Linked DNA regions of Homo sapiens: region 1 is linked to region 2. Evidence: fine-mapped expression QTL. A gene starts in region 2. The other region holds a variant in brackets. All regions are shown on one strand. Distances are between the middles of the regions. Region 1 overlaps SUSD3 (sushi domain containing 3). Region 2 holds the start of SUSD3 (sushi domain containing 3).

The links. PIP is the estimated chance that this variant, and not a neighbour inherited with it, causes the effect.
Region 1: its variant is fine-mapped to the expression of SUSD3 in whole blood (INTERVAL, PIP 0.95).

The regions. Positions count from the first base shown.
Region 1 is chr9:93,078,923-93,084,286 of GRCh38, forward strand. SUSD3 (sushi domain containing 3) reads left to right here. Exons shown (of 5, transcript NM_145006.4): 4 at 549-680. Among named protein-coding and RNA genes, the nearest start is that of CARD19, 15 kb to the right of the region's middle. RefSeq lists an enhancer at 3,605-4,233. The variant A/T (reference allele first, on the strand shown) is at 2,380.
Region 2 is chr9:93,056,169-93,061,532 of GRCh38, forward strand. It overlaps SUSD3 (sushi domain containing 3), which reads left to right and starts at 2,533. Exons shown (of 5, transcript NM_145006.4): 1 at 2,533-2,662. The coding sequence starts at 2,575. RefSeq lists silencers at 2,248-2,697, 2,708-3,117 and enhancers at 2,628-3,608, 3,609-4,589, 4,658-4,707.

The DNA of each region.
Region 1 (5,364 bases), 23 kb after region 2:
CCGAGTAGCTGGGACTACAAGCGCCCGCCACCATGCTCAGCTAATTTTTTTTTGTATTTTTAGTACAGACGGGGTTTCACCGTGTTAGCCAGGATGGTCTCGAGCTCCTGACCTCATGATCCACCTGCCACGGCCTCCCAAAGTGCTGGGATTACAGGCATGAGCCACTGCGCCTGGCCAAAACTTAACCTTTTTAACGTCTACAGTTCAGTAGCATTAAGTATGTTCACGATGTAGTGCAGCCATTAGCACTGTCCAGCCCTAGAACTTTCCACCACCTGTATTTGTAAGTAAAGTTTTATTGGAACACAGCCATGTTCATTGTCTACTGGTGTGTGGCTACTTTTGGGCTGCAATTGCAGAGTTTAGCTGTGGGAGAAATCATGTGTCTCACCACACCAAAAACATCCACTGCCCAGCTCTTTGAGAGGTTTGCCAGCCTGCACTGGTCCTGCAGACGGTGCCCTGGGCCTACATGGAGCCTGTTTCCACCACCGTCAGGGATACACCTGCATGCTCAGAGTCCTTCCTCCCAAACTCTCCTCCAGGTCAGCCCAGCTGTGGTCCCAGCTGAAAGATGAGGACTTGGAGACGGTGCAGGCCGCATACCTTGGCCTCAAGCACTTCAACAAACCCGTGAGCGGGCCCAGCCAGGCGCACGACAACCACAGCTTCACCACGTGAGCCCGGGTCTGGGTAGGGGACATGCTGGGGGACAAGGGGTCCAGCTTGGTCAGGCCCCGGGCCACCTGCTGCTCCCACACGCTGAGAGCCTGCTGCTCCCACACGCCTAGCCCACCCAGAACCTTAACTCCCATCTCTAAAACAAGAGGCTGGTGGTCCTTGTAGCACTCTGTCCTGACTCTGACATTCTAGGACTCAGAACTGCCCCCAGCAGTGTTTTCATCTGGAGGGTCCACCCTCCAGGGAAGCTGAAGCTTCTACACACCTGTGTTCCCTCCACCTACACCCAGCAGGGCTCTGCACTGAGCTGCAGTCACTTGCTCTCCCTCCCGTGCTCTGTCCCTCTCCTTTCTCTCTCTCTTAATACACACATACATTTTTTTGCCCTGAACCAATATAAGGACATTCTTTTTCTGAGTCCAGAAATTTAATACTGATTGGCCAGGCTTGGTGGCTCACACCTGTAATCCCAGCAGTTTGGGAGGCTGAGGTGGGAGGATCACCTGAGGTCAGGAGTTCGAGGCCAACATGGTGAAATCCCGTCTCTACTAAAAACACAAACATTACCTGGGTGTGGCGGAGTGTGCCTTTAATCCCAGCTACTTGGGAGGCAGAGACAGGAGAATCACTTGAACCCAGGAGGCGGAGCTTGTAGTGAGCCAAGGTTGTGCCACCGCACTCCAGCCTGGGCGACAGAGCGAGACTCCGTCTCAAAAAAAAAAAAAAAAAAAAAACAAAACTAACAGAAATCTAATATTGATTGCACGTGGCCTGTTGAGTGGAGAATGTCCATAATCACACGCAGCACTCAGCCACCAGGTCTCTGGGCTCCTTAAACTGGTATGGGCCTTCAGTTTTTCATGGCATAGTCTTCTGAGGGTTCCAGGCCAGTGGTCGCATGCAGAGGCTCCTGTCTGCGTCTGTCTGGTGTTTCTGTGTGACCAGGCCCGGCTCTGCATTTCTGGTGCAGGGCTACATGTGCAGATCACAGACATGGGCCAGGCTGCCCCCACGGGCCACATGGAATGGGGTCTCTTGGCTGAGGCGAAGCCCCCCAGGTCCCTCCACTGTCAGAGCCTGAGGAAGGGGCTCTGCAAGTGTCCCTCCACTGTCTCAGCGGCCTCTGACTTGTGGTCTCAGCGTGCAAGGCTGATCCTGCCAGATCCGCTCTTGCCTTGGGCATTACAGAATGGTGACTTTGTTAATTCTGTTGCACTTCTGACATTCCTTCTATCAGGGATGAGGATGAGCTGTTTTTTTCTTTCCTTTCTTTTGATTTTGTTTTGTTGTTTTAGCATCACATGAACTCATGAATATTCTTTTCTGAAACTTTTATTTTGGGAAAAGTTCACAAATACACAAAAGTAGAATATTGTCACAGATCTCCTGTCCCTGCCTCCCATTCTCATGGTCACCAGCTAAGCCAGGCAACCTCATTCATGCCCCTTCCCCCACATTATTTTCAAGCACACTTTTTGTGGGCTCCAGTTCTTGGCAGTAGGAGCTCTGCCAAGCCATGGCCTGTGTCCTTCTGATCCATCCCCATCAGTCTGTGAGTGCTTCCTGCCTTGCACAAGATGTTCCAGGCCCATCTCATGCTTTCTGTGCCCATCTCTGCGGTTGGCCACTGCTCTGGGAGCCCTGTTTCTGTGGGTGGAGAACAGCGCTTAGACACCGGGGTCTGGGCGGGCATCC[A/T]GACGACATCATTGAGCTTGTGTTCCCTTCCTTCAGGCCCTCCTGCTGGAGTCTTTCGAGGCTGCAGTGCACTTGGTCCCAGCCCTCATGGCCTCACTGTATGACTAACAGCTCCATGCCTCGGTTTCCTCACCTGTAAAGTGAGGATTGCAGTAGCGCTCACCCTTTCAAGTTGTTGAGGTTACCTGAGTCCGGGTGTGTGCCTCTCTCGCCAGGCCCAGGGTGAGAGCTCATTGAATACTGGCTGTTACTGTCGTTGCCACTCTTACGACCTTATGCAGATGGGGAAACTGAGGCACAGGAGATGGTGGTCTCTGTGGCCCTGGGTTACACACACCGTGCTGGGTCTGGCCAACACCTGCAGGGAAGGAATTCACCTTTCTGTCTCCTTTCCTGACGCTTCAAGTGTGTATTACATCAACAAGGATGTAGCCGAAATGCTGCCATTGATACTTCTGCACTTAGCAACACGTTCCAGGTCACCATGGTGGTCTGAGGCCTCCAGGCTATCATTCCTTACAGCAGCCCATTATTCCAAAGCTTCCAATATCTGCTAGACCCTCCCCTGTTGAGTGGTCAGGCGTGGTCAGTGTCTTTTTGCTTAGTGCTGTTTTTCTTTTTCAAGACCACAACTCTTGGGGCTGATCCTAGGAATCGATTGTTTAGGCCCAACAGTCTGAATATTTTATGACCACATTCTTTCCCTGGGAGCTCTGGTACAAGTGAATGTGGCCATATTTTTCTGGTAACTGCATCATCACTGAGTGCTGACCATTTGTTTATCATTTGTTTCTTACAGTAGCTACAAGTTGTGTGGGTAGTTTCCGTCAGCATTTCTTTGATGAATGTCGAGGAAGAATGTTTTCTCCAGCCTTGGCTCACCAGTGCCATTGCTGGCATGAGTCATTTTCTGTTTTCTCTGCTGAATTACCTCCAAATGTTTTGCTCCATGTGTTGTGGGAGGGCACCTGACCCATCAATTGGCTGTACATTTTTTAGGCCTCTTTCCTTTTTTTTTTTTTTTTTTTTTTTTTGAGGCGGAGTCTTGCTCTGTCGTCCAGGCTGGAGTTCAGTGGCGCGATCTCGGCTCACTGCAAGCTCCGCCTCCCGGGTTCACACCATTCTCCTGCCTCAGCCTCCCAAGTAGCTGGGACCACAGGTGTCCGCCACCATGCCCAGCTAATTTTTTGTATTTTTAGTAGAGACAGGGTTTCACTGTGTTAGCCAGGATGGTCTCGATCTCCTCACCTCGTGATCTGCCCACCTCGGCCTCCCAAAGTGCTGGGATTACAGGCGTGAGCCACCGTGCCTGACCCCCTTTCCTTTTTATTTTAGTTTTGTTGGGGCCATGGTGGCTAATGCCTTTCCTTTTGGGTAGTGAGATATCCAAAGCCACTTTCAGAGCTCCTCCATTGCCCCACCTGTGATCCCCACTCCCCATTACAGCACTGGGACCAGATCATCCTGTGTCATAACTGGGAAAGTGCCCATGGAATGGGGGAAGGAACAATTGCCTCTCAAGGCAACATGGTGTCCAGGATGATGGCAGCCACAGCTGCTGCCGCTGCCGCAGGGGCTTTGCTGGCCAGAGCATGATGCCGAGGGGCTCCCAGGGGTGCTGTTTGGGGCCACACTTCTGCCTGGTCCCAGCGCCACAGACCCTGCCTCTTACACTGCGGGAACTTGTGCAGTGTGTGGTCGGACGTGTGCGTCCCGTCCAAGAGTGGCCACAGATCTGTGTACAGGGCTGTGTTCACCCCCTCTGGGGAGTGAGAGAGCCAGGGCGGGAGGGAGGCACCCTGACAGGGCCGTGAGAGGCTGGAGGAGGCCGGCTTAGGGGCCACTCTGACAGTCAGCTCAAGAGGCAGGAAGTGGTGGTGAGGCTGAGGGGGATTGGGAGGGGGACCCTTAGGGCAGAGCCCCTTCCCGGAGCTCTCTCACACATGGAGACCTCGAGCACTCAGCCCAGCTTCATGGGGACTCAGAGAAGGCGGGTCCTGCCCAGGGCTACAAAGCCGATGGAGGCAGAGTTCCCTGAGTCCCCAGCCCTGGGCCCCGGGCTCCCAGGCAGGATCCTCGGGATATGCCTGTGCTGGGGCTGCCCACCCCTCAGGCAGGGCCCAGGCTGCCTCCATAGGTGGTAAATTGCCTTTAGCAAGGTGAGGTTTGCCTCTTGACCTTGTTTTTATTTCATAAGTACTTCTCAGCACTTGCAATGTGCCAGGCACTGTTCTGAACTCTTCCAAATATTAACTCTTTTCACCTAGGGGTGGGTACTACTTTTATCCCGTTTTCCAGGTGAAGAACTAGGCAGGTTAAGAAACTTGTGTAGACTCCCACACAACCAGTAAGTGAGGCTGGGTGGAGTCAGTCTGGCTCCTGCCTCCCCGAAGCTGCCTTTCGTCTCCACCAGTTATTGATGCTTTCACTTACTCATTGCATAAGCAGATCATTTCTTAATTCCTACTACTTACTAGAGTTTTTCTGAGAATTAGTTGTGGGTGGGAGCCGTGATCCAGGAAGGCTTCCTGGAAGAGGTGATGCCGGAAGTGAAAGGACTAAGAGAGCCTGCTTTGGGAGGGGAGAGAGACAGCCTCTGAGGGGAGGAGAGGACATGCAAAGGGCTGGAGGTGGGAGCCGCCAGGCAGCCCACATGGAGCAGAGGCCAGTGTGTGTGTGGAGGCTGGAGATGGGACAGGGCCAGGGTCTGGTCAGCCTGGGGAATGGCTTGGTTTGTATCTGGGGGAGTAGAGAGCCACAAGAGTACTGAGGGTGGAGCAGGTGGGTGATCCAGCTCCTGGCTACCAAAGAGGCAGGCCTGGCAGGAGGGAAGATGTCCTCCCCTTGACCTCCTGCTCCCCAGCATCCCTTCTCTGCCTGGGACATCCCAGGCCCTGGCCAGACAGCTGGGTTCCTGGTGGTTTCTGCACACTCTGAATGAGCCCCAGGAAGTCCCTTCCCACACCTTAGGGGGGCAAGTGTCTG
Region 2 (5,364 bases):
CAGATCCCTCCCATAGCTCCTGAAGATGGCCTTTTGGCAGCAAATGGGTGTTCTGAGCCACAGCAAGGCATACAGTTCCCTGTGGAAACGACATGACAGAGGTCCTTAGGCCACCTCCAGGTCCCCTAACAGTACAAATGGAGGCCCAGCGCCACAAGCCTGAATGTCCACAACCCAACCAAGCGACAGACTGCTCAGAAAAACATGCTCTTTCCTCCTTGATCCCACCTGTCAGGGGCTGAACTGTGTCCCCCAAAATCTATATGTTTAAGTCCTAACCCTCAGTACCTCCAAATATGACCTTATTTGGAGACAAGGTCTTTACAGACTCTTCTTTTTTTTTTTTTTTTTCTTGAGATGGTGTCTTGCTCTGTTGCCCAGGCTGGAGTGCAGTGGCACAATCTCAGCTCACCACAACCTCCGCCTCCCGGGTTCAAGTGATTCTCCTGCCTCAGCTTCCCAAGTAACTGGGACTACAGGCACGCGCCACCATGCCCAGCTAATTTTTGTATTTTTAGTAGAGACAGGGTTTCACCATGTTGGCCAGGCTGGTCGCAAACTCCTGACCTTATGATCCACCTGCCTCTGCCTCCCAATGTGCTGGGATTACAGGCGTGAGCCACTGAGCCTGGCCGGTCTTTACAGACTCTTTATAGGGTCTTAAGTTAAGATGAGGACATTACGGTGGGCTCTAATCTAATATGACTGGTGTCCTTAGAAGAGAGATTTGAACACAGAGAGACACAGGGAGAGCACCATGTGTAGACAGGAGTTAAGTTGCCACCGGCCAAGGAACTGCCAGAAGCTGGATGATACAAGGAAGGCTGTTCTCCTGGAGTTTTTGGAGGGACTGCAGGCCTGCCGACACCCTGATCTCAGACTTCTGGCCTCCTGAACCATAAGACAATAAATTTCTGTTGTTCTCAGGCACCCAGTCTGGGGTACTATGTTACACAGCTCTAGGAAACACACTTCCTAAATGGCCAGGTGTTTAGCATTTGAAGGCTCCTGAAGGCCTGGGTCACAGCGTGGTGGCTTAGGGAGCTGCAGGCAGCCTGGTGTTTTCCATCCCCACCTAGCTCCACCCAGCTATTGGAGGGCTGCCCCAGACCTCCCTCCCAGCCCTGTCCATGCACCTACAGGCAGTGGCCTTCTGCCTGGTGGTGCATGGTGGGCAAAACCAGGGAAGGGACCACACAGGCCTGAGAGGTGGGCTAGGGGCCACTTGGCAAGACATTCTGGGGTCCCAGAGTGTGGTCTGGAGTGGGCACTGCTGATGGCCCTGCCCTTCCCGACATGGCAGAAAGAATACACATGCTTGATTTTGAATAAAGGAGATTGAAGTAAGCCATCGTGTGTGACCCACAAGTCCAAGTGGGAAGAACATATCAGGGGTGACGCCAACCCTGATGGCGAAAGGGGGAGGGCCCCTCACGTTTCACACTGAACCTCAGCTTTGGAGGGCTCGGAAAGCAGAGACGGGGAGGGGCTGCCCTGCTGGAACCCTGCTTCATGGTCCACCTGAACATCCACACTCTTCACGGTCACCTGCCAGGCACTCTAGAGCCAGCCTGGCCCACCTGGGCCACCTTCTGCGCTCCTGGAGGCATGCCTAAGCCAGCCGCACTGGGCTTCTGCTGCCACACATTGCCAAACCAGGGCCTTTGCACCTGCTGTTCCCTCTGCCAGGATTGCCTTTGCCAGCTCCACAGGAATAGGCATGGCTCAGGTGGTCTCCCACAAGCAGCCCAAGATCCAGGATGTCTGAGGCCTGACACCACACCCAACCCTTTGGTGGCTGCCTGGGCAGGGGGCTAAGCCTGGGTTGGGTGGGGTCAGAGGGAGAGAAAGAGCCCGGATCACAGCTCTGGGCCTGCTGCAAGTGGAGCTGGGTGGGAAGGGGAAGCCAGGAGAAGGGAGGCCTCCAGGTGTGGTGGGCCCTGCAGACAGACCCCAGGGCTTTCCATCCTGTTTCCCCCAGCCGGGGGCCCCTCAGTGAGAACCGAAGACAACAAGGGCACCCAGACCTCAGTGTGCCTCAGACGGCCTGGCCCAGTGAGAGACAGGGAAAGAAGGCTGGGTCCACACAGGACTCTGGGGGTGAGTGGGTTACGGGAGGGGCGGGCCGGGGAGGCGTTTTGCTGTTTGCCCTTTGGTACCGGCCGAATCCGGCACCCTGAGAAGGCAAAATCCTGCTCAAAAAATAAAAACACAGAAGCACATGGAAAAACCACACTAGGAGTGAAGGTGAGAACAGGAAGGGATGGGGGAAGGGTGTTGGGCAGAGGTAGCCACGCGTGCAACGCCCCGGAGTAGCAACACTTTCCGCTCAGCCGGCTGCCTTGGCCCGCTGGGTATTTGGTCTCCCCAAGGGCCCCCGCCCACAGCCCCCGGCCGGACCTCGGCCCCAGTCCAACGTGTGGGCGTGGTCTGTAAGTTGCATGGAACCGCCCCTGGGCGGGCGTGGAGGGCGGGGCCTCCCCGCCCCTCACCCAGGCCCAGGCCCAGGCCCCGCCCCCACAAGCCGGGCTCACTCCCCTGGCAGACCCCGCCAAGCGCCTCGGAGCGCGCAGGATGCGCTGGGCGGCCGCCACCCTCCGTGGCAAGGCGAGGCCCCGGGGGCGGGCCGGGGTCACCACGCCTGCCCCAGGGAACCGCACAGGTGAGGGCTGGGGCCGAGTGGCCGCGTGCGGGGCTCTGCGCCCATTTCACAGACGGGAAAGCCGAGGGGAGGGGGTCGCGGGGCCGCACAGCCGTGGGTGGGGGCCACAGCAACGATCTGCCCCGAGGACGAACCTCCTCGACCCTCCGCCGGCCCAGCAGGCGCCCTAGCGGAGCCGAAGCCTGGCAGCGAGCAGTTCGAAACCAGGCGGCTGCACGCAGCAGCCCGCGCGCCCGTTCCCGAGTGGCCGCAGCGCCTTGGTCCCGGGCGTCTGCGGACAGCGCGGCCGGCCAAGCCTCTCCACGCCGCAGGCTCCGGGCCCCTCCGCGCCCCTCCCGGGGAAGTCGAAACCGGCCTCACCTGGCGGGCGGGTGGCGCGGGGGCGGGAGGGGGGAGCCGGGAGCCCTCTCTGCGCCTGAGGGAGGTGTCATCTTCACGATTCCTTGGTGACCAGCGCAGCTCCACTTTACAGATGGAGAAACTGAGCCTGCGAGAGGGGAGTGGCTGTCCGAGGTCACCCTGTAGCCAGGCTTGGGATCGCCTCGGCTGTCTCGGAGGAGGCTCAGAGGCCTTTGGAAGGAAGAGAAGCTGCTTTTTATTTTACTTTTAAGTGTTTGAATTCAAGAATGTGCTTAAAGAGTTGTCTGCTCCCGTGCCCAAGGCTCCGGGGTTCGAATGCTGGCCTTGCTCCTTGAATGATTCTAAAGTCTAACCCTTTTAGAAACGGAACCAAACCGGAACTCTGGGTCTCAGATATCCCAAAAGCTTACTTCCGCGGCCACTGCCCACGAACGTTAGGCCTGAGGGTTCTGGGCGTCTCAGGCGTTGCGGGGCTAAGGCTCTGCGCAGGAGGAAGCTGAGGCCCGGAGTGGGGTGGGCTGGACCAGGTCACACTGTCAGCCTGCAGCCCCAGGGAACTGGCAGGAAGGTGGCAGGAGAATGGCTTCCTCTCACAGTTGGGGAAACTGCGGCTCAGGGAGCTAATTCACCGAGCAGAGGTCCGCAGCTCAGCAAAGTGGGCGCTGAGACTTGTTCCTGGCGCTGGTGGATTTGGTTTATTTAGTTTGACTCTGGCAGCCTAATGTCCAGAGTCCCTAATTTGGTGTTGGGGTGATGAGCACTTTTGCTCCTGTGTTTGAGCAAGGCCTGCCCAGGGCCTGGTACTACCTGAGGAGCCCCTTCTACTGGCACAACAGCCTGGGGGCGTGGGTGCCAGTGCCCTTTGGATAGCCTTGACTTGCCCAAGGTCAGCCCAAGGCCAGGGAGTATCTGGAGGCTCTGGCATATTTGCATACAAAAGGCTGTTTGCCTTGGAATTTGTGCTGGGAATGGAGCTTAGTCTGGCACCCTGTGCTCTTGTTCATCCTGCCTGGCCCTGGCTCTGCCTCTGACCACCATGACCACTTCCCAGGCACTGGCCCCCTTGTTGGAGTTTTGGGTTAGGATCCCCCCTGTGACCTGGGGTGAGTCGCTGTACCTCTGTGCCTCAGTTTCCCCATGTGCCCCAGTTTCCCCACTGTATACCTGCCCCCAAGCTTGTGGACAGGCCCAGTGGAGCCCAGGGAGGGTACTTGTTCTGGTGCAGGGATGATGCCATCATCTGGACTCCATCACTCCCCTGCCATGTGACCTCAGTTTCTTGCTCTGTGAAATGTGCTGTGAAGTTAGAGGCTGGGGGGTTGGGAGCCTTTGGAGAGGATTTGACACTAAAACACCACTGACCAGGAGTGGTGGCTCATGCCTCTAATCCCACACTTTGGGAGGCTGAGGTGGGCGGATTGCTTGAGTCCAGGAGCTCGAAACCAACCTGGGTAACATAGCAAGACCCCGTATCTACAAAAAATGCAAAAAAAAAATTAGCTGAGCATGGTGGCATGCGCCTGTAGTCCCAGCTATTCGGGAGGCTGAAAGGTGGAAGGATTGCTTTCGTCCAGAGTTCGAGGCTACAGTGAGCTGTGATCACCTCACTGCACTCCACCCTGGGCAACAGAGCGAGATTCTGTCTCAAAACAAAACAAAAACCAAAAACATAGCACGGGGATGTGTGTTTTTCCCACCATCTTTAAAATGGGGCCATTACCACTGGTTTTCCTAGAGTAGATATGAAGAGCACAGTAGTGTGGACAGACTGATCTTCCTGAGAGGCAGGAAGTGGTCTTCCCTCATCTCCCATGAGCGCCCTGGGAGAAGGGCAGGGCGCGGGGGAGACTAGCTCAGAGTAGGAGTTTATCATGTTTGTTGTATGACTGGCCCCTGGCCCTGCTCCCAGGTCAGCCCCAGCACTCCCTGATCTGGGAGATTGTCCAGGAAAGCAGGGTTCCAGTGGCTGTAGGTAACCCCCCTGGCATCCGTGGAAGGGCCTTGGAGGAAGGGCCTGGAGAGGGGGTAGCAGGAGGCATGCTCTGCTGGTGCCTTCTTGGCTTCACCCCTGAACTCCTGCCCCAGAACTGGACTGTGTCCATTTTACAGAGGAGAAACTGAGACCCCGTGAATGCATGTGTAAATCAAAGCAAGGCAGACACACCCTGTGATGCCTGGCTATGGCCTCCTGCCACCCATTGGCATCGAAAGAGCTGCTGGTAGAAGGCATAGGTTCCCGGACCCTCGGTTTTCCACCAGGGATGTGGGAGTACATGTTCCTCATTTGGAATTAGCCCAGCTCTTTTATGGAGGATTGTGTGCTTTCCACATCCTGAGGCCAC